3 separate regions of the Homo sapiens genome follow, and regions 1 and 2 are each linked to region 3. The links come from fine-mapping of genetic effects on gene expression. A gene starts in region 3. Each other region holds a variant in brackets. All regions are shown on one strand. Distances are between the middles of the regions.

Region 1 (7,702 bases), 49 kb after region 3:
TACCTACTGTACAAGCAAAGTATGTTTGTTAAAATTTTCTTTTAATATGTTGCATATGCAAAGTGGTTTTCCAAACGCTTTCACTAAACTGTTCAATGTCAACTCCTCAATGCCCTTAGGAGGAGCGTGTGTCAGAAGTTCCTGCCATTTAACAGGAAACAGTGACCCAGAAAAGCTTTGGCATCCCTGCCAACCCCGAATTAACAGCAGAGACAGCCCAGAAGCCACAGCTCCTGGCTCCTAATCTCTTTTTCTCCCTACCAGACTTTTGGGGCCCCTGAAAAGGTGGGATTGCCCCATGATAAATGTTCTATAGAGTCATCTTGGAGAAAAATGATGATGAAGTAGGTGATGATTCCTTTTTCTCTGCAGCCGGAAGAGCAGCAAGACCTGCAGTGACGTCATGTCTGTGGACGCCCAAACCCTGAAGAAGAAGATGGGCAAGCTGGCCTGTGACCCGGCCGCCCACTCCATCCTCAGCAGCCTGCTGCTCTACGTCACGGGCCGCGCAGACCGGCCCCCGGGGACAGAGGCCGGGGGGAGCAGGCCCAGCCACCAGCCCCAGACCCAGGAGGCCACCCAGCGGCCCACGCGCTTCCAGCTCCTGCAGGCCAAGTTCCTGGGCACTGGCCGGGAGCGCTACCTCAAGAGGACCAGGGAGGTGGGCCGGCTGATCTCCAAGGACAAGCAGGGGCCGGGTGGGGGCCTCGTGGGTGCCACCATCAACAAGCTCCTGGAGAAGACCAAGGAGCCGGCCCCAAAGCCCTGCCTCAGCGAGAAGCCCCGCTGGGGCCACCCGGCCGGGAAGAGCACCGTGAAAAACATCCTGAAGATATTCTTGGCCGCCGAGGAGAAGGAGGCGAAGGAGAAAGAAGCACGCGAGAAGCCCCCTGTGGAGCGGCCCAAAGCCGCCAGGGGCCTCTTGCCGAAGATCATGGGCAAGAGCTCGGTGCTGTCCAAGCTGCGGGAGAAGTTCGAGCAGAACAGCTGCCTGTGCTCCGAGGCCAGTGCGCTGAGGCTGCACACGCAGGAGCGGAAGAAGAGGAACCTGCAGAGGAAGAGGATGCACCGGCCGGAGGTGCGCGTGCTGCACACGGCCACCATGGCCAGCACCTGCGTCAAGATGCCCCCTGCCCGCTTTCTGGCCTGCACGGCTGAGCCCCTGCCGGCCCTCAGCATCGCCACCGTCGTCTGTGGCCCCAGGAGCTGGCTGTCCCACTGCACCAAAATCAGCCACTCGGAGGCAAGGCGTCCACCCAGAGGAGAAGCCAGCGTGCCCCCTAGTGCCAGGGAGACGGGGCCCAGTGGGAACAAAGCAGTGGGAAAGGGGCCCCTGGAGGAGGAGCCCCAAAGACAGCCAAGGCCCTCGAAGCCCGTGACACCCCAGGTGATGGCTCAGAGGGACGGCCACGCTGTCCCCTCGCTGGCCTTCTCTTGTGCTCCCTGCACAGGTGGAGTCCTTCCTGGCCTTGTGCCTGCATCATCCCCACTGGGACCGGCCAGCCCTTGGGGCACCGGATCAGCCGGAGGTGATGGGACTGCAGACCCCACCGCAGAGAGCACCGCAGGAGGCGTCCAGGAGGTGAGGGGAGCCAGGCTCACGTGGCCTCCTGGGCCCCCAGGCGAGTGTGCAGGGGAGGGCCCTGAAATCACCATGACTGTTTGCAGTTCAGAGGATGAAAGGGAAGGAGCAGGCTTCCCAGACCCAGGGAGAGACCCCCTCTTTGCCACCCAGAAGTATTTCCCAGAACAGAAGGTGCCGGAGCACATCCCACCCCTGAACGCTCCATCGGTCCAGGCTGCTCGGAGAACACAGCCTGCCACGGAGCCTCCACGGATAACTGTCCAAATTCCAGTTGTCCATGAAATGCCAGCCCCTCCCACCAGGCTGCAAAATATGTCAAGTGGTGAAAACAAACCTTGTATTTGTGGAGGAGAGAATGTGGTTGAAAATGCCCACACAGAATTTCCCACCGTGACTGAGAACAGAAGGGGTCACCGAGCCCCAGTGGAACTGAGCAAGCTTTCAGGGATGCAGGCGGGACTCAGCGCCTCTTCGCCGCAGGGGCCACGGGCAGCTCCGCGTCTGGCAGCAGCAAGAGGGGCTGTGGGCGCCGACCACAGTGTCCCAGAGACACTTCTGACACAGAGACTCCAGACAGATCCTGCTGGCGGGAAGGAAAACAAAGGCAGCTTTGAGAATTCACACGGTCCCAGGAATCCTGACGATATTTCAGGAGAGAGGACCTCTGAGCTCAGAGATGTGAAGCATCCGTTGCCGGAATCTAATGAAATATCAATGCAGAAGAAGGGCTCCGCAACAAATGATCCTGCAGCCTCACAAAACCTTCTGAGGGGAAACACCAGCCATGCCTCCAGCAGCCAGCAAGTGCCGTCCCCGACTGGGAGAAACCCAACAGGAGCCCCCACGTCACTGGCGGCATCATCCAAGGGGCGTACGGGGCCTGAGGGTGTCACCCCGATGGGCATGACAGTGCCCGGTGCGCTGGAGGAATGCAGAAGGCCGCTGCTAATAGAGTCTTCTCAGCCCCTGAAGGCTGCCGAGGAAATCACCAGCCATGATGTTCGCGAGAACCCACTGTCCTCATTAAATGAACCACCCAAACCAGGTATGAAAGCCTGTGGGGCGATGGCAGCTGCAGGGAGCGTTGCGAGCCGCGCCACGCCTGCACCAGCGCCAGGCAGCACCCAGAGCCCTGGAGACCGCACAGCGGGAGAGCCAGAGACGCTGGGCCAGTGGGGAAGCAGAGCCTTGTCCGAAAGCCACCCCAGAGGAGAGGCTCTCCCTCGAGACCCTCACAGCCACGGCCTCCTGGCCCCTGGGGGATCCTTGGAGCCCAAGAGTGGAGCAGCAGGGAGGAGCCTCCTGAGAGGCGTGGCCCTCGTCCAGCACCCAGAGGACATTGCGACCCTCGCCCGCCACCCGGAGGATGCTGCGGCCCTCGCCCGGCACCCAGAGGCGGCCCGATTATACATTTCAAACACATCAGCAGCCAGCAGACATACAGCAGCTGTAGGAGGCAGAAAGGATGTGGCTGTGGAAGGAAACCTTTTGGGTTTCAGCACAGAGTCTGGAATTCCTGCTTCTGATCATCCTAGGCCACAGGCAAGGAGCGTGGCAGAGTCCCCCAGCTATGGCCCTGGCCTCCCGCCGTCGCCTCCTGAGAACCCACAGGCAAAGGGCAGGGAGGGCGTCAGGTTTCCCCGTGGGGCGGAGCCTGACCATCTGCTTCCCGCAGTGCCTCCCGCGGAGGTGGACATGGGGTGGGTAGGTGGCACCCACCAGCGGGGCCCTCCCCATCTACAGGCACACCTGCCCCCTACTGCTGGTGACACACAGGCAAAGCTCCGGGCCAGTGTCCCCGAGCCTAGGACGCAG[G/T]CAGGTGAATCCCAGGAGCGTCCCCTGACACAGGCGGACCTGGGGAGGCAACAGAGTCACCAGGCACAGGAGGAGACCCCCCAGCCCGGGGATGCGGGGAAGAGGGTGGCGCCGTCGGGCTCGAAGGTTGTGCTGAACCCAGCAAAAGAGCCTCAGACATGGTGGGCACAGGATCTGGCCGGGGACAAAGGGATGGCCATTGGGGTTGGGGGCGCCTGCCAGCGCAGTGACCAAGGTCAGCAGCATCTGCAGGGACCCTGGGAGGAGCGGGGGCGGAGCACGGCGTGGGGAGAGGGCACCAGGGCTGCCAGGAACCCAGCTGTGCCTCCAGGGGAGCCCGAGGGGCCGGGAAGCCCGGCAGCCCAAGGACAGGCCCAGAAACAGGTTCAGGAATGGGACCGGGGACAGGTTCAGGGACACGCTCAAGAACAGGCCCAGTGGCAGACCCAGATAGAGGCCCAGGGGCAGGCACAGGAACAGGCTCAGGGTGGGACCCAGGGACACAGTCAGGGACAGGCCCAGAAACAGTTTCAGAATTGGGCCCAGGGACAGGCTCAGGGACACGCTCAAGAACAGGCCCAGTGGCAGACCCAGATAGAGGCCCAGGGGCAGGCACAGGAACCAGCTCAGGGTGGGGCCCAGGGACAGGTTCAGGGACAGGCCCAGAAATGGGCTCAGGGGCAGATTCAGGGACAGGCCCAGAAACAGGTTCAAGGAGAGGTTCAGAAATGGGCCCAGGAAGAGGCTCAGGGACAGGCCCAGTGGCAGACCCAGATAAAGGCCCAGAAATGGGCTCAGGAACAGACCCAGAAAGGGGCTCAGGAACGGGTTCAGGGTCAGGCCCAGAAAGGGGCTCAGGAACGGGCCCAGGAACAGGCTCAGGAGCAGACCCAGATAGAGGCTCAGGGTCAGGCCCAGAAGGGGGCTCAGGAACGGGCTCGGGAACAGGCCCAGAAAGGGGCTCAGGAACGGGCTCGGGAACAGGCCCAGAAAGGGGCTCAGGAACGGGCTCGGGAACAGGCCCAGAAAGGGGCTCAGGAGCGGGCTCGGGAACAGGCCCAGAAAGGGGCTCAGGAACGGGCTCGGGAACAGGCCCAGAAAGGGGCTCAGGAACGGGCTCGGGAACAGGCCCAGAAAGGGGCTCAGGAACGGGCTCAGGAACAGGGTCGGGAGCAGACCCACATAGAGGCTCAGGGTCAGGCCCAGAAAGGGGCTCAGGAATGGGCTCGGGATCGGGCTCGGGATCAGGGCTGGGAGCAGACCCAGATAGAGACTCAGAGGCAGACCCAGAAAGGGGCTCAGGAACGGGCTTGGGAACAGGGTCGGGAACAGGCCTTGACAAGTGGGATGGCGCCTCGGGCCTGGGAGCAGCCCATTAGTGGCATAGCTGAGGGAGTGGATGCTGCTGGCAGGAGTGGGGGGTCCAGAAGCCCAGCCCCCAGGGATGGTGGACAGTCAGGGGGCAGTGGCCTGGGGGAGCCCAGCGCCGGGTACCCACCCCCAGGAAGCCGCCCCCTCAGGGGCAAGAGCATTGCCACCTCTCCCCTGGGGCTGGGAAAGAGCCCAACTGAGCCCAAGCCTGAGGCTGGGGGCTGCGGGACTCCCCAGGCCCCGGCCCAGGAGGGGTCCCCAGACCACCCTGGGGCTGAGAGGGCCCTGCAGGACAGGATGGAGGCATCGGAGCCCGAGCGTCGCGGGAGGTCCAGGCACCTGGCCAAGTACAAAGCCCAGAGCTTCCGTGACCAGAGGGCCTTCGATTTGTCCTTCAGACCAATGAGCGTCAGGGCCAGCGACACGTCTGAGCTCCCAAAGTGAGGCCCCGAGTACACACCGTGGCTCGCCCAGCACTGTGACATCCGCCCATTGAGGGACTTCAGGCATTTTCCTGCCTCCAAATGCGTCTTGGAGCATCCCCTACAGAGACGCCTGTTTCCATAATTTTCTTTCCCTTCTTCACAAGCTGACCTTGGGAGGATTGAGCTACATGTGGGTCGGGTTCCTGTCACCCCACAGAGCCACGAGGCCATGGGGGTGGGAGGTGCGGGCCTGTGGCCTCACCAGGCCCTCGGGATTCTTTGTGTCTTCACTCGGGGGCGCCGGCTCACCCCTCTCTCACACAGCCTGCAGCGTGGAGCTCACACCTCCCGCAGTGGCACGGTGTGTGCGTCCCCTTCGATCTGCAGGATGCTGGCACTTTGGGACACCTCCCCAGCTCTCACAGGGCCACCTCCCACTGCTCCCTGCCCACACCCCACCATGCCCTGCTCTGACGTGGCCGCATGGCACCCACCATCCATGGGCCCAAAGTGATGCACACCGCCCCACCCCCATGACTCGAAAGAAAGGGCAGAGCTTCCTCCAGCCTCAGACGCCCAGGTGGGTGCCGGGTGCTGTGTGGCTGCTGGGCCATGTGGTGGTCACCAGAGGGTGTGGGGACGCTGGGATCCCAGGCCGAAACCAGCTCATCCGGAGGAAGAGGCCTCAGGAAATGCCCACGTTAAGTTCTGAGAAAGGGACAGTGCAGAGCCGTGGGAAGCCAGGATCCCAGGGAGGCTTCGTCTGGAAACTGGGTGCTGGGAGAACGAACGGGAGCCTGCCCGCCCTTCCCTGCAGTCCCTGTGGGTGGTGCCACTGGTGCCGGTGACCTGAGAGCCTCGCTGTCTGTCCTCCGTCCTCCCGAACAGCATAGAAGTGTTTCCTGCCCTGGCCCGAGACGGCCCACGACTCCGGCCCTGTTCAGGTACTGAGGTAATGCATGTTCAGGCTGGAATATTTGAATGCTGTCTAGAGGCACAAGAAGGAAATCAAAGCCACCTGTGGTCACATTGCCTCGAGATGGTTTTTGTTGCTACTCTGGACTATTTTTTAGGCTCTTCCTCCATGCACCTATTTTAAAGCACATTCTTCCCCATGATGGAGCCATGCACCTCCGTGTCGCGATCCATCGTCCCAGGCCACTCGGTGGCCTCTGAAACCCGGACCCGTGAGGCCACACGGCTGCCTGAGTGGCCCCGGAGCAGCTGGATTTTCAGCGTGAACCGATGCAGCCTGTCGCCCTACAGCCCCGCACCCTTGTTTTTGGTGGTGCCCTCCCTGTGGAAAGTTAATTCCTGCTTTTTGAAGGTGTCTTGGCATCTTCTGCCTTTGCTACTGAGCGGTTTCCTGAAACAGCCCTAAGCGTTCGCAAAGGCGCTTTGGTGCCTGCTGCGAGCACCTGTTTTCTGACTCGGATGTTCCTTTAGAGGAAGGTGTTTTCCAGTGTCGGCCCTGAGAGGGCGTTCAGCAGGCGCGTCCTACCCACGCGGGGCTGAGGTCTCTCCTTCCAGGGAAGGTCCATCCCGGCAGACGCCAGTGGCTTTGGCTCTGCAGCGCCAAGGAGGCGGCGTGGCGTCATGCTCCGGGGAGCGCACAGGTTTCCTTCCAGTCGAACAATTAACTTCAGATCCAGCAGGTTTGACCCACCCTCACCTGCTGGGACATGCGAGTGCTGGTGTCTGGAAGGAGGGCCGGGCTGTGCTGAGCTCTGGGGGGCCGGTCCCCACAGCTCCCCCGACAGGGCCCCCGGGGCCTCCTCTATAAATCAGGGGTCCGTGCTCCCAGCCCGCTTCGAGGGGTTTCTGCTTGGCGTGTGGGTTCTAAGTGCGAGCTGCTGTGTGTGGAGGCTCCTGAGCACCGGGTGCCCCTCGCGCGTGTGGGTCCCGGGGCAGCCCAGCTGCACACAGGATGGTCCGGGGGTGCGGGTGGGGGCAGAGCTGAGCATGGCGTGTACTTGGCCACAGAAGTCTTGCTGTGGTGCCGCTGGACCCCTGCTAGGAGGACAGGGTCCCCTCTCTCACGAAGCACACGGACCTCCAGAGTCCCTGCCCCTGCAGTCCTGGGAGCCTGCAGTTGGGGCTGGAGTTGGCCTCTCGGAGCCACCCAAACGGAGAGGCCCATGAGAGGGGAGCTCAGGGGTCCAGCAGAGGCTGACAGAGTGGCCTCTTTGTCCTGTTGGCGGCCCCTGCTCATGCCTGGGGCGTCCTCCCTGGAGCTGGGGGAGCTCAGGGACCCCCAGGTCTGTGTGGCTGCCCCTGCCACTCCAGGCACAGCGGCACGGCCCTCACTCTTTACCTATTTGGAATTGGAGGCAATGAGTGGCAAGAACATGATGACAGACACGGGAGGTAAAAATATGTTCACTGGCTGTTCCCTTTATAAATAAGAAGTGGTGGGACTTGCGCTGCTATTTTTAAATAGACCAGAGAGTACACTGGAGAAGGCATTGAGTGGTTTTATTTTAAGTGGTGGAAAAAATGATGAGAA
Region 2 (7,702 bases), 38 kb after region 3:
AGACCCTGAAAAAAAAAAGAAAGAAAGAAAAAAGAAAGGGAGGGAGGGAAGAAGGAAGGAAGGAGGGAGTGAAGGAAGGAGAAGAAGGAAGGGAAGGGGAGGGGAAGGGGAAGAAAGGAAGGAAGGGAGGGAGGAAGGGAGGGAGGGAGGGAGGGAAGGAAAAGAGGGCACATTATACAACCTCTTAGGCCCAGCAAGGTGTAGCTCCCCAGGGGTTCTTCTCTGGGAGCATCAGTGTTGCACATCCCTGTGGATCCGCATCTCTTGCAAGACATCAGGCACCAGGAAGGGGCAGGCAGGAGGATGAGTGCCTCTCACTCCCAGATGGCAGACAAGGGTGCTTCAGAGGAAGGTGGGGTCCAGAATATGCCCATTCTCAGCCTGAAGCTATTGGCAGACACCTTTCTCTCAGGCCCACGGATGTGAGCTCTGAAGCCAGGACTTGGGATGGAGAGTTCCAATCGTGGCTGAGAAAGGACATGTGTGTCCTCATGAACACACCACACAGAAGTCACACACTAGGAACATGTGCCATGTGGGAATATGAGCATGTCAGTAACACACACATGTTTAGACTTCAGGCTGATTTAGATGAATCCGTTTTCCCAAACTCTTTGATTAGAGATTTTGCATTTATATTTAAAATTATTGTGTCCAGTGTTTTCATATCTGAAAGCCATGGCAGAGCTGTCCTTCCTTTCCCACGTTGGAGGAAGCGGATCCAGGGAGGCTCGGTGACTTGAGTGGGCAGGGCAGCCGCTCAGAGCACCCAGCCGAGGAAGTGGCGAAGCCCAGCCCCCGTCAGACCGAGAACCATGCTGCTGCAGGCTCCCTAATGGCCAGCCATGCAGCAGGTGGCATTTGAATGTTATTTCCCCTGTCTATTCCATGCTCCACTAGAAGCGGGGCCCTTTTTACTACCCCCATTTTGTAGACAAGGAAACTAAGATTCAGGGGGTCTGAGTATTTCTCCCAGAGCTGCAGTTCATGAGCACAGAGTAGCTTTTAAACCCGACGCATCCGAAAACCACACTCAAGCCTTCTCCCCTTCCCCTAATTCTGGAAGACCTCACCACCACCACAGCCCTCAGCAAACCCTGGCGATTGCATAACCTCAGGCCCAAGCTGCCAGAAGCCAATGCCACCTGTTTTGGCTGTGGGTATAAAAATTAATAAAATATCAGCTGATAAAATTGGTAATACCCAAACTGATGTTCAATCCAAACATCTGTGCTTTAAAAACTCCATCATTGAAATGCATTCCAAAGGTCCCATTAGGTTGGAAATAACTGGAATCTCAGTGCAGGCACTGCAGCTCCCCTGGTAAAAATCCCTCGTGTGTAAACGCATTTCCAGTTAACACACAGAAGCTTCCCTGGTTAAAATCCCTGGTGTGTAAACGCATTTCCAGTTAACACACAGAAATAAGTTATCAGCTCACTTAGCCTGTTGCGGGAAAAGCATTCACATGAGTCTCAAAGAACAGCCTGAGACCGTCTCGGGATTCGTGTGCCACACCCCGAGCAGCGGCTGCTGGTCAGCAAACAAGGGCTGAGACAGACAAAGGCAGGGATAGCGCCTGATCTGGGACAGACAGACAAAGGCAGGGACCGCGCCTGATCTGGGACAGACAGACAAAGGCAGGGACTGCGCCTGATCTGGGGCACTCTGTGTCTGGCACCACACACATCGCGAACGTTCTGTCTGATGGCCACAGGGGCGGTCCCCAGGGTCTGAACCATCGTGTGGCCCTGTGGGCAGCATCTCCCTGCCTTCCCCATCCTCCTTGTACCCTGAGAAGGGCAATCGCCCAGGACCCCCCACTCTGGCTCTCCCTCGGGCAAGACAGGCTGCACGACCTGGGGCCCTGGTGGTGCCGGCGGGGACCATGACCAGCCTGCAGATTGGGGGGACAGCCTTGTCTTGTCCCACACACCAGGAAACCAGAGAGCACAGAGTCCCCGGGGCCCTGCCAGTGGGGTGCTGGTGCATCCGGGGTTCCGCAAAGCATCGCCTCTCCCAGCAGCCGTCTGTGCTGTCACGGTCCTTGAATGACACCTGTCATGACGCAGCTTTGCTGTCTCTCTCTCCTATCTTAATGGTTCACTTTTAAGTTTGTTTCAAAAAAACTAGCTCCGACAACTCCCACGCCCCTTTGCCCAGGATCAGCAGCCGTTAATATTTTCCCTCATCTCTCACTGCACACACTCGTGCATTCGCACGCACACCCTCGCACATATGAGCACGCACACACAATTGTTTCTGAAACATTTGAGAATAACCTGCCGACCCTATATCCTCTCACCATAAATATTTCAGATGAAATTCCTCAGAAAAGACAGGCTCTTCTGTAACCACTGTTTGCTTATTCAAAATCGGAATTTAACCTTCAATAACGCTATTATCCAACATAACAGCATCCTGTTGCAATATAATATACTATATTGTGTTTTTATTATGTGTTAGAAATTGTGCCTACTGCTTCATCGGTTTCCTTTATAATCTATATGTTTGTAGCACAAATTGGTGACAGAAGCTCACTAACCCGATACCCTGTATGTCCCACAGGTACTGAGGGACCCTAGGCAGTTGCTGTAATTAGGCGGCAGGCAAGCATCCCTGGAACCCTCTGCTGACTTACTCATGTCTCAGGCCTGGGAGAGCATCCAGCGCTTATGGCCTCAGTCAGCCTGGGATGGACAGTGTCCCCATTATCAGTCACAGCCGGCCGACTAGACATCCCTTCGTTGGTCACTGCCGGTTTACCAGACGCCCCTTTGTGGGTCCCAGCTAAGTCAGTCACATATAAGATCTTATGTAGGTCACAAAAAGATGTTCAGGTCAAGGCCTTGGGGTATCCTAGCCCAAAAGTCCACATCGACCATTAGCCAGATTTATTTCCAGGAAATACAGATACTCAGGTTCTCCAGCTGATTCATTAGTACAGTCTGAGCTATTCCCCACCTAGTTACAAAAAATCAACAGGGAGCAGTTAGCAAACACTTGTTCTCGGCTTTACTAGATAGACGGTGACCGTTGCAATGATGCTCAGAAGCTGCTGGGGAGGGGATTGGCCAGATCAGCTCTGCCGCCGCCTGGGGGCCACTCTCGGCCACCCCACGGGATCCCAGCCGGGCCCCTGGCCTTCCAGGATTTTTAGAAAATACTCATCCCTTGGGGTTAGATTTTCTTTTTCATAAATCTAATATTAGATTCTTTAGTAATCTCTCCTCAGCCTTTGGGCTAAGATCAAGTATAGATTTATTTGTAAAATGTTAGGAGCCTCAAATTAAAGGGATCTGTGTTATTTAAAACCAATTTTAAAAAAACTACTAAGGAGGCGAGCTTGCTTCTCTCTCTCTCTCTTTTTTTTTTTTTTTTTTTTTGAGATGGAGTCTCACTCTGTCACCCAGGCTGGAGTGAAGTGGCACGATCTCAGCTCACTGCAACCTCTGCTTCCTGGGTTCAAGTGATTCTCCTGCCTTAGCCTCCTGAGTAGCTGGGACTACAGGTACACACCACTGTGCCCAGCTAATTTTTGTGTTTTTAGTAGAGTTGCGGTTTCACCCTGTTGGCCAGACTGGCCTCGAACTCCTGACCTCGTGATCCGCCTGCCTCGGCCTCCCAAAGTGCTGGGATTACAGGCATGAGCCACCGCACCCAGCCCTTCTCTTTTTATAACACTAATTCGGTGGACCCTGCCTGGTCGCCTGGAGCCGGCCACTGAGCCCACGCCTGGCTGGCCTCTGGGCAGAACATTTCCTGTCATCAGTAGAGCAGCTGGGCCATGGAGGCCACTTATTCAATGCCTTTGGTTAAACCCTTTCCAGGTCCACACTCTGCTTGGGGACCACATCGCGGGCAGGCGTTTCTCACCCTGCCCCACCCGGACACGGGCAGGTCCGCGTCTCCAGAAGGGCTCTCGTCCCTCTAGGCTGACCAGCAAGAACCCCAGGAGCCCAAAGGTGCAGCCCCAGTGTCTCTGTCCATGAGCTGTGGAAGGGACTCTGCCACCGCAGCTGCCAAACGGCCCCTCCCCTCTCCTCACCTGCCCCAGGGGGTTGCTGGGCGCTGGCTACCTAGGGAGGTGTCGCCCTCCCTGATCTTCATGGCTTCAGGGGAAAATGGGCACAGAACAAGCAGCCATAAAAACAGAAGAGGCTGAGCTGGGCATGGTGGCTCATGCCTGTAATCCCAGCACTTTGGGAGGCTGAGGGGCATGGATCATGAGGTCAGGAGTTCGAAACCAGCCTAGCCAAC[A/G]TGGTGAAACCTCATCTCTAAAAAAATACAAAAATTAGCTGGGCGTGGTGGCGGGCCCCTGTAATCCCAGCTACTTGGGAGGCTGAGGCAGGAGAATGGCTTGAACCCGGGAGGCGGAGCTTGCAGTGAGCCGAGATCACGCCATTGCACTCCAGCCTGAGTGACAGAGAAAGACTCCATCTAAAAAAAAAAAAAAACAGAAAACAGAAGACCCCTGCTCAGCACACTCAGGGAGATGTGCAGAGGCACGTGGCCCTGCCCCTGGAAGAGGAGCATTGGCACCACAGCGACAAGAGCAGTTCCACAGGCACAGATGGAGCCACAGCCAGGATGTGTGCCCCCAGACAGGCCTGTAGTGCCCTGAGAGCATATCGGGGAGGCCGGGACTGAGCTGTAGAGGGGAGGGAAGCCGGGGGCTGAGCCGCAGAGGGCAGGGAGGCTGGGGACTGAGGGAGGGAGGGTGGGGGCCAATCTGCCAAGGGGAGGAAGGGGGGGCGGCTCCAGGCTCATCCGCAGAGGGGCAGGAAATGGCAGTGCAGGCCTCTGGTGTTGATGGAGGCCCAGGACATGTTTTCTAAGCGCTGTTGGCCGAGGGCATCCAAGTGTCCCTGTCAGAAACATGTGGAGGCTGGCACAGGGATGTGTGTGACATGGCTGAGGCTGGTCCGTGTTCTGAGCAGGCTCCTGGAACAGCCAGACAGTTGCAGGCCCAGCTGCCACGTGAAACCGGCCCTGCCCTTCTCTCAGAGGAGGAAACTGCGGCTGAGGGTGTTCCCTGCCGCAGGGCCAGGCTCGGGTGAGCCCAGCACAGCCACTGACTGGGCAGAACAGTGACCTCCAGGCCCTGCTGGCCAGAAAGTCCCCAGCAAAGAACCTGCCAACAGGGGCTGCTGTCCATATCATGGTGGGCCCGGGTGTGTCTCCTGCGCTGTGATGGCCTCTAGTCTCATTGTATTTTCAAACGACCTCTCTGGCTGGCCAGAGCCACCAACAACTAAATTAGGAAAGCCGGGCACCCTGCTGTTTATATTGGCCCCTGGGAGGAAGACATTCCATTCCCTGTGGGTTCTGCAGCTTGTCCAAGTGCTGAGGGGACGCTGAGGGAGGCCCGGTCTCGCCCCGCACTGCTGGGCGGGCAGCGGTCACACAGGGCAGCCCAGACTCCGCCAGCGCAGCTCTGACCGGGGGCCTTTTCAGGAGGCTTTGAGGGGTGGGGCTGACGGCCCAAGGGGCAGCACTGGCTCCAGCGCATGAGGACGCGTTCACTCAGCAGCAAGGTGTGCAGCAGGGGTGGGAAAGGGCGAGAGGCCCACCTTCACAGCAAGTGAAGGCCCCGATCACAGGGCGCCTCGGGAGACACGCAGAGCCCCACGCGGGAGTCGCCGAAAGTCCTGGGCCCCCCTCTCAGTCCATGACTTGGGGGCGTTCCTGGCGTCCACGCTGTTCCCCTTTGTGGGGACATAGAGGTCTGTGTGGGTCACCGTGGGGCTCACAGAGCTGGGCCTCTGGGAAAGGCTCCCTGAGGTGGGGGCATCTGAGCCGGGTTGTGAAGGATGAATAGGAGCTCGTCAGGGAGGCAGCGAGGCTGTTCCAGGCTGAAGGGCACAGCGAGGTTGGGCGTGGAGTGGACAAACAGGGTGGAGGCTGGAGCTGGCAGAAAAGGGGGTGGCCAGGAGAGAAACAGGGTTGTGCAGTGGGTGAACCGAGTTCTGCGAGGCGCTGTTGGCGGTGGGTGAACCGAGCTCTGCGAGGAGCTGTTGGCGGTGGGTGAACCGAGCTCTGCGGGGCGCTGTTGGCGGTGGGTGAACCGAGCTCTGCGGGGCGCTGTTGGCGGTGGGTGAACCGAGCTCTGCGGGGCGCTGTTGGCGGTGGGTGAACCGAGCTCTGCGGGGCGCTGTTGGCGGTGGGTGAACCGAGCTCTGCGGGGCACTGTTGGCGGTGGGTGAACCGAGTTCTGCGGGGTGCTGTTGGCGGTGGGTGAACCGAGCTCTGCGGGGCGCTGTTGGCGGTGGGTGAACCGAGCTCTGCGGGGCGCTGTTGGCGGTGGGTGAACCGAGTTCTGCGGGGTGCTGTTGGCGGTGGGTGAACCGAGTTCTGCGGGGCGCTGTTGGCGGTGGGTGAACCGAGCTCCGCGGGGCACTGTTGGCGGTGGGTGAACTGAGCCTCCGGGGCACTGTTGGCGGTGGGTGAACCGAGCCTCCACGGGGGCTGTTCGCCACCCACGGGTCTTCTGCCAGCCCGCCCGGCTGTGCCCAACGCTGCTCTGGACTCGGGAAAGTAGAGACCAGAACCAACAGGGGTCCCGCCCATGCAGGGGCTCTGCTCTAGTGGGGAGCTGGGCAGAAACAGGGGTGACTTGTTGAAAAGTGCACTCGGATCTTAGAAAATTATAGAGCTGTGGCTGGGCGCGGTGGCTCACGCCTGTCATCCCAGCACTTTGGGAGGCCGAGGCAGGCGGATCACGAGGTCAGGAGATCGAGACCATCCTGGCTAACATGGTGAAACCCCGTCTCTACTAAAAAATACAAAAAATTAGCCGGGCGTGGTGGCGGGCGCCTGTAGTCCCAGCTACTCGGGAGGCTGAGGCAGGAGAATGCTGTGAACCTGGGAGGCGGAGCTTGCAGTGAGTCGAGATCGCGCCACTGCAGTCCAGCCTGGGCGACAGAGCAAGACTCCGTCCCAAAAAAAAAGCAAATTATAGTGCTGTGACAGTAGTCACCCGGGATGTGCCAGCAGCAGCAGCACACGCTGAGCTGGGGGCTCCCAGAATCCCCCAACCAGTGAAACCCAGAGCACAGAACATGCTGAGCCGGGAGTAGACCCCGGAAGAAGGAACCACCCGCAGGTTCAAGGAACCCAAAGACAGCAGCACCTCTGGGGCTACCACGAGGGGCGGGGACCAGAGAGGGTGAGCGCAATAGTGGGCGGTGGGCGCAGGACTTTGTGACGAGAAGGGGCAGCCCAGGGGAATGGCAGGACAGCAGGGAGCAGGGGAGTGGCCAGGCCAGACCCAGGGAGGAACTTGGTTAATGATGATTGCAAAACACAAAGGCTCTGTGAAGGGGGCTGTGGAAACCCCTCTCGCTCCCGCCAAGGGCGTCATCCTGAACCGCGGACGCCTCCGACAGCCACAGGTCCATGGCTGAGGACACCTCAGCAAGGCGGGGCTCACCCCAAAGAGGACTTTGTAGCTCTGGCCGAATCCCCTAATCCTCAGCCAATAAACCCAGAAGAGCATCCTGATCTCTGTGAGTGAAAACGTGTCTCAGATGATCACGCTGCGGGGTGAAAGCCGGCTGTGACAGCTGAAGAGCTGGACCGGGTGGCCAAGTACGTCCTCCACGCTCACCGCTGGTTGCTGGCCAGGTCTTGATGACACGCTGACCTCATAAGTGGTTACAGACTTAGATGTGCGGTGGAAGAGCTAAACTGGATTTTGAGC
Region 3 (7,702 bases):
TTTTTTAAAATTGGTGCCAGCAATTCACGATTTATATTTTTTGAATTACCAAATATCTAGATTTACCAGCTCTATTTTTGTTTTCATTTTCTCTAGACATTCATCTGAAAATCATTTTATGGTTCTCAATCCCCATGTAGCTTTGCATAGCAACGGCACACGTGGCACGATTCCAGCAGAGTTTATCTCACACCGTTTATATATCACTGGGCCTCTCTTACTTAAATATTATTTGACCTGCCTGAGAAGCTTCATAAAGTATGTTTTTTTAAAATATATTTTAATTACATTTAAAAAGACATTTTTCCATGAAAAACATTTATTTTATGAGTGATGAATTATAGATTTTAAAATCAAGGCCGGGCGTGGTGGCTCACACCTGTAATCCCAGCATTTTGGGAGGCCGAGGCAGGTGGATCACCTGAGGTCAGGAGTTTGAGACCAGCCTGGCCAACATGGTGAAACCCTGTCTCTACTAAAAATACAAAAATTAGCCGGGCATGGTGGCACATGCCTGTAATCCCAGCTACTCAGGAGGCTGAGGCAGGAGATTCGCTTGAACTCAGGAGACGGAGGTTACAGTGAGTCGAGATCGCGCCACTGCACTCCAGCCTGGACGACAGAGTGAGATTCTGTCTCAAAATAAATACATACATACATACAATAAAACCGAATGAGCTGGTTCTTTCCATCCTCTTGTGGTACCCGTAGTGCCCAGCATCCAGACCTTTGTGCCCCTGTGCACATTTGGAAGCTAAAATGTACATCGTTGTCTGAAAAAACCCAACCCCAAAACCTTCATCTGATTGGTGAGCTGAAGTCTGTCCTTGCACCATGTTATCATCTGTTTCTCGTGTCCGCCTGGTTGAGGAGGACCCACGAGTGCTGCCGAGGTGTGGAGGGCTGGTATTGAGTTGTGGACATCACTGTTGACCCTACCTCACGTGCCGAGACTCTCATGTCACAGGCGTGCCTTGCTGCCCCCCTGCAGCACTGTGCAGGACGTGGACCAGCTGGAGCTGCTGCCCAGCACAGAGGAGAGTCGCCGCAGATGACCTAGCTGCGGTGTGAGAGAGCATGGCCCAGACAAGCAGCTGGGTTGGCTTCTGAGAACAGGACTTACCCTGGGCTTCAGGAACATCTGATGGCTGAGGTTAGTGTGCTTGGAGGCTGCAGGACGAACTGTCGATGTTTCTTAGCAGAGATGGTCACAGAGGGCAGCAGGGACAGGACTGGAAGGGACCTGCAGCCTGCAGACCCCGCCTGGCCCCCGCTGGCTTCTGGCTGGTCCAGTGATGGGCAAGTGACAGACCTTCCCCAGGCTCTGCTTCCAGAACTCTAATGGGAAACTGGGCCTGTCTACCTTTAGAAGTCTTCGATTCTCAGAGAGCATTTGTCTAATACAATAAAAACTGGCATTAATACAAACCTCAAAAACGTGAGCGTATCTTCCAGGCTTCATGGATTCTTGACATGTAATTGTTTTGTTCAGAAAAGTTTATAGAATTCACATAATTCTGTATAAACTATGGAGATCCACAGTACTTTTTTGTTTTTGAGATTTAAAGTTCTAAGGGATTGTCAATAGATATCAAAATATTAATCATTGGACAAAGGCTTTTCCAAAAATTGTGGGTTTTTTTCTTCTGTTGTATCCATTTGAGTCCTGCATGCTGTGAAATGCTGAGAACAGAAGCATTAAATTGGTTTTTCTCGGGCGTGGTTTCCTTTCGATTCTCCTCAGCTGCAGGGATGTCTGCCTATAGGTGTCAGCATCCACGTCATTGTCCCAGGATGAGAGAACAGCCCCCAGCTAGCAACCAGCGGGCAAGCCCCTGCCCCCGTGTGTGGCCCGCCAGCCCTGGCCAGGTAACCAGGTCCTCAGGTACCTTCTGTCATTGCGTTGCCTCTCAGCGGTGCACCGTGCACCTGATGGGGTGGCTCATGTGAGGAATGAGAGATCTCACAATAGGCAGGATTTACGGGAGTGTGTCGGGGCAGGAGGTCATGTGTGCCAGCACAAACTGCTGGAAACCGTCCCTTATCGGAGGCAAACGGCCAAGCACGGGGGTCTGAGGATCATGTGCTACCTGCCGATTCACGGTGCACCTGCCAGCGTTCCGGAATCAACAACGCCAGCTCCTCTCAGTGACATTGTACATGTCATTGTGTTATTTTCGCTTGAAGTTTATATCCATTTTAGACCTCAGGCTTCTTGGGGCCAAGAATAAACTTTCTTCTGATCCTTGTTGCTGTGTCCACAGTTTCAGGTACAAAGTAGGGGCTCTGCAAATATTTGTTGGATAAACGAGCTAACCTTATCCCGTCCTGTTTGCTGAGGGAGCCAGCTAGTGCTCTTGGCAAAGGTTTCCGCCGCCTGCGAACTGAAGCGCTCAGCGAGCGGGCTGTGTTAATCCCCTCAGCAGCACACGCTTCGGCCCCACAGTGCAGTTGTGCCTAAAACAGGTGAGAGTTTGAACGAAGGGCCGCCCCTCCTGTCTGTCTTGTTTGGATAGGGACCCTGCGTGCATGCTGTTTTTTGTTTTGGAGTTTTGTTTGTTTGTTTGTTTGTTTCTGAGACAGAGTTTTGCTCTTGTTGCCCAGGCTGGAGTGCAATGGCGTGATCTCGGCTCACTGCAACCTCTGCCTCCTAGGTTCAAGTGATCCTCCTATCTCAGCCTCCCAAGTAGCTGGGATTACAGGTGCCCACCACCATGCCCGGCTAATTTTTGTATTTTTAGTAGAGACGGGGTTTCATCATATTGGTCAGGCTGGCCTCAAAATCCTGAGCTCAGGGGATCCGCCCGCCTCGGCCTCCCAAAGTGCTGGGATTACAGCCATGAGCCACCGCGCCCGGCCTGCATGCTGGTTTTGAAGTTTGTTTCTGAATCTCAGGATCATGCTAGCTGGCATGACTGTGCTGATGGCTGCCTCCACCAGCAGACAGTGGAGGGTGAGGTGAACTCACTGCTTGAGATCCTCCGTTTTAACAAGTGCTGATATAACGCCAGGCGGTTAAATGCTTCCTACTGTCTCGCTGTACACTACGAGAGTTTTTATCAGACGCATTTCTTCAGTCCAGGTGTAACTCTTTGCTTCCCCTGGGTCTGATGGAAACCAGGCCCCGAGGAAGGAGACGGGAGAGACACAGCCCTGCTGGGCTCCCGGCCTCTGCGGAGAACTGTCCTGGGGTGGGGTCGGGAGATGGACTGTTTTCCTAATTTATTTCAAACCAGGAACCCTGGCTGTGTGCATTCTGCCTCACCCCCCGTCTCCATATTTTTTAATATTCTTTTCATGAGCTAGCAGGGATGATGTAAATACACTGAGCTGACCGAGGGCCGGATGGGAGGTTCTAGTGAAGCCTGCGGTTTGCTGACGACTTTCCCCCTCAGTGCAGTCCAATTATTTGGGAGCCGTTAAACACCGCATGCTGAGAAGACACCGTCATTGTTCACACAGGAGCTAGATAGACTTTGTTCCCTCTACACTGCATTTTTTAAAAGTTTTCTATCAAAAACACATTTCATAATCGAAAAGTTTTCTAAATGATAAAACCGCATGTCACAGATTAATCTCAACATTATGTTGAGTGAAGGAAGCCAGACACCGAAGGCCACACATTGTATTTGAAATGTCCAGGAAAGGCAGAACTGTAGAGACAGCAGATGGGTTGTTGCCCGAGGGGTGAGGGCACGCCCCGCAGCGGGCGGCAGTGACAGGCACGCCTGCACACATCTGCTCCCGCATCACCCCACGCCACACACGGGGAAGTGTGCGCACTCCTTCCAGGGACAGCGAGAGGAGCCCCTGCTCTGTCAACGCTCTGAATGTGCTGCGGCTGCCGGCAGAAGCTAGCAGGCTCCTCTGCTGAGGAGCTGGTGCCTGTCCAGACGCAGAAGAAAACTGACACCTCCCACGTGGGGGACAGAAAGGTCCTCTCATTGGTGCCACCTGCAGAGATAGACAAGGAGCGCCTGGCCATCAGAGGACGCTCCTGACAGTGACACAGTGACCACTATAAAAGTCAGGCGGGCTGAGGAGGAGACAAAGGCCAGGACGCTCCGCAGCTGTTGGGGAAGAGGAGCTGCCTCCTGGGATGGAGAAATTTAAGGCTGCGATGTTGCTGGGGAGCGTCGGCGATGCTCTTGGCTACAGAAATGTCTGCAAGGAGAACAGCACTGTAGGCATGAAGATCCAGGAGGAGCTGCAACGTTCCGGGGGCCTGGACCACCTCGTACTCTCGCCAGGAGAATGGCCCGTGAGTGACAACACCATCATGCACATCGCAACCGCCGAGGCCCTCACCACAGGTAGGCTGGGCCCACCGCGCTCCGGTGTGCGGGCTGGAGGGAACACTGGCTGCTCGAGTTCTCCCAGTAAGCCTCCGAGAGCTTTGAAGGCAGTGCGGTCCTTCAGCGGATGGTGTTACCTGATACCGCTGCTAAAAGTGGCAATTTAATCTGAGTGTCCCTCAAATTTGATATGCGGCAGATCACGTTTCTCCTGTGGTTTCTCTGAGGGTGACAGTATTACTTTACTTTGCAGTTATTAAGATTCAGTTTTTAAACGTGACTTTTCACTTGTATTTGTAAAGCGTTAACTAGGCCTAGCACCTTCTGTTTCTAATAGAGTTAAAGCCAGTGAAGCCTCTCTCGGCCGTGCTGGTGGGAGTAGGGTGAGGGCTCACTTCTCGCTGCAGAGATTAAGCCTTCTTGTTCTGAATTCATTACAAAGGGATGTAAAATAAGCCAGTTTGAAATGTGAACCCATTAATACTGTTTGGGGATTAGTTCTAAATTCCAATGAATTAAAGTTAGAATATCATCTCCCAAAATGGTTCAGCTTGGAGAGTTGCCCATACACAAATGTGTTCTAAGAAAATGACATAAACTTGATTGGACGAGATTGGAGACAAAGCTTCTTAAAATACCTTTAAGTAGCAAATTGATTTTAGGATCAAGCTTTTGCATGAATTTCAGGGAAATGGCAGGTGCACAGACATGCAGTCCAGCTTTCCTACGAGGCATTTGCTCTTCAAAACCCCGTGGGTGCTGTTTATCATGGCAGAATTAAAATCTGAGGGCTGCAGCTAAGTCAATGAAATCTCACTTATGCGTTCACTCCACCATTCTGTTCATCTGCCATGGACGTGCCCAGTTTAGTTCTGTGCTCACAGCAGAGGAATGCCATCGAGCCTGTGGCCGGTCCCTAAATAACGGGAGAGCTGAAGCGCCGGCGATAAGATAAGGCTCCCGGCTTGCTGGAGACGGGGAGGCGTCCGACTGTTCACAGCCTTGGCGTCCAGGAGCTCCTGCTTCTGGTTTTCCAGGCGGCCACTCGTGTGCCCTTAGGACCAGCAACCCCATGCTTGTGCCCCGCAGCCCAGAACAGGTGCACCCCACACACAGACACCTGTGGGACACAGCTCCGGCTTGTTTTCACCGTAGACGGCTGGAGCTCACTCTTGAGTTTGGCTTCCTCTGGGCGTCTGATGCCGTGTGTGCGCTCATACCAGCTCTGCATGTCCCATTTCTGGTAGCACTTGGTGGGCGTTTTGTAAATGGCAGCGTCCATGGCTGTGGGTCTGGTCCTGCCAGGCCCGCAGGGAGGGCAGCGGCACAGGACACTCCAAAAGTGCACCGACGGAGATCGGCCCAACAGGACACGAAATTCACACAGTTAAAAGGGTTACGGACGTTTAGGGCACTGTTTTTTGTTTGTTTTTTGAGACGGAGTCTTTCTCCATCGCCCAGGCTGGAGTGCAGTGGCGTGATCTCAGCTCACTGCAACCTCCACCTCCCAGGTTCAAGTGATTCTCCTGCCTCAGCCTCCTGAGTAGCTGGGGCTACAGGTGCCCACCACCACGCCCGGCTGATTTTTGTATTTTTAGTAGAGACGGGGTTTCACCACGTTGTCCAGGCTGGTCTCGAACTCCTGACCTCAAGTGATCCACCCACCTCAGCTTCCCAAAGTGCTGGGATGACAGGCGTGAGCCACCATGGGGCGCTATTCTTAAGGAGGAAGTAAGTTTGCTCTAAGCTCTCAGGGTCCTCAGCTGTGGACTGGAAGGGAGGGTTCACTGTGCTGCTGCAGCGTCTAGTTTGTGGGTCATGAGAAAATACGCATCCAAGATCACCCCTGGAATTGCTTACTGTGGGCGGCAAGCCACCCAGGCACTGAGGCAAGAGACAGAGGACACGAGCTGTTCCAGTATAATAAAACAAGAATAGTTATACCAGATATAGATCTTAGATATGATTATATATGAATATCATTAATCATTAGTTTGTAGCAATTACTTTTTATTCCAATATTATGATAATCCTCGCTCTATAATCATAGCCTAGGAAAAACCAGGCCATACAGAGATAGGAGCTGAGGGGACATAGTGAGGTGTGACCAGAAGACAAGAGTGCGAGCCTTCTGTTATGCCCGGACAGGGCCACCAGATGGCTCCTTGGTCTAGCTGTGACGCCAGCGTCTGGGAAGACGCCCGTTACCAGGCGGATCGTGGTCCAGCAGTAGCAAAAGGTGGCAAGGAACAACACCTGCTACTTAGCAGACCAGGAAGGGGGGGGGGGTCTCCCTTTCCCCAGGGGAGTTTAGAGAAGACTGCTCTTCCACCTCTTGTGGAGGGCCTGACATGAGTCAGGCTCGCCCGCAGTTATCCGGAGGCCTAACCGTCTCCCTGTGATGCTGTGCTTCAGTGGTCACACTCCTAGTCTGCCTTCATGTTCCATCCTGTACACCTGGCTCTGCCTTCTAGATAGCAGTAGTAAATTAGTGAAAAATTAGTACTATCAGTACTAATAGTCCCTGATATGCAGAAATAATGGCATAAGCTGTCTTTCTCTCTGTCTCCTCTCCCTCTCTGCCTCGGCTGCCAGGCAGGGAAGGGCCCCCTGTCCAGTGGACACGTGACCCACATGACCTTACCTACCATTGGAGGTGACTCGCATTCTTTACCCTGCCCCTTCTGCCTTGTATCCAATAAATAACAGTGCAGCCAGACATTCGGGGCCACTACCGGTCTCCGTGCATTGGTAGTAGTGGTCCCCCGGGCCCAGCTGCCTTTTCTCTTATCTCTTGTCTTGTGTCTTTATTTCTACACTCTCTCGTCACTGCACACAGGGAGAGACCCACCGACCCTGTGGGGCTGGTCCCTACAGCTTACCCCTCTAGAAACCAAAGCAAGCAGATTTTTTTCAACTCACTAAAAATCAAAGTCGAAATTTCACTTAAGTTTATCTTTGTTCTTTAAATAACAAATTGTAGCCTATGGAAGGGGGTCTTTAAGCTGTGTTAACAATGGTGAGGGCTGGGCACAGTGGCTCACGTCTGCAATCCCAGCATTGTGGGAGGCCACGGTGGGCAGATTGCCTGAGCCCAGGAGTTCTAGATCAGCCTAGGAAACATAGCAAGACTCCATCTCTACAAAACGACAATGGTGAGTGCTGACTCCACAGCACTTCTGTACCAGGCATTGTTCCAGCTGCTTCACGCATGTTATCCTCCACACATGCTCCTCACATCACCGTGGAGGCTGATTTTATCACAATCTTACAGGAGAAAAAATTGACATACAGAGAGGTTCAGGCGCTTGCCCAGTGCCACACAGCCCAGCGAGTGGCAGAGCTTGGACGGGAACCAGAGAATCTGGCCCCTGTGCTCGTAAGCATCCTCCCTGACTGCTGAGATC

Alleles and levels. Positions count from the first base shown, and alleles are read on the strand shown. Sizes are in standard deviations (SD) of each study's normalised expression.
In carriers of allele T in region 1, the expression in testis of the gene that starts at base 4,049 in region 3 tends to be higher than with G alone (moderate effect, 0.64 SD a copy in GTEx).
With allele A in place of G in region 2, the expression in sigmoid colon of the gene that starts at base 4,049 in region 3 is higher (small effect, 0.26 SD a copy in GTEx).

Evidence for each region. PIP is the estimated chance that this variant, and not a neighbour inherited with it, causes the effect. A credible set is the group of variants that fine-mapping cannot tell apart.
Region 1: its variant is the best candidate, but not a certain one, in a credible set for the expression of ADPRHL1 in testis (GTEx, PIP 0.80).
Region 2: its variant is the best candidate, but not a certain one, in a credible set for the expression of ADPRHL1 in sigmoid colon (GTEx, PIP 0.69).

The regions. Positions count from the first base shown.
Region 1 is chr13:113,400,891-113,408,592 of GRCh38, reverse strand. ADPRHL1 (ADP-ribosylhydrolase like 1) reads left to right here. Exons shown (of 8, transcript NM_001394807.1): 8 at 373-7,702. The coding sequence ends at 5,215. Among named protein-coding and RNA genes, the nearest start is that of GRTP1, 41 kb to the right of the region's middle. RefSeq lists enhancers at 616-1,301, 2,419-3,213. The variant G/T (reference allele first, on the strand shown) is at 3,401.
Region 2 is chr13:113,411,435-113,419,136 of GRCh38, reverse strand. All of the region lies in intron 7 of ADPRHL1 (ADP-ribosylhydrolase like 1), which reads left to right. Among named protein-coding and RNA genes, the nearest start is that of ADPRHL1, 38 kb to the left of the region's middle. RefSeq lists enhancers at 287-1,287, 1,288-2,288, 7,527-7,702. The variant A/G (reference allele first, on the strand shown) is at 4,261.
Region 3 is chr13:113,449,835-113,457,536 of GRCh38, reverse strand. It overlaps ADPRHL1 (ADP-ribosylhydrolase like 1), which reads left to right and starts at 4,049. Exons shown (of 8, transcript NM_001394807.1): 1 at 4,049-4,313. The coding sequence starts at 4,100. It overlaps DCUN1D2 (defective in cullin neddylation 1 domain containing 2), which reads left to right. Exons shown (of 7, transcript NM_001014283.2): 7 at 1-1,718. RefSeq lists enhancers at 589-1,519, 5,516-6,017.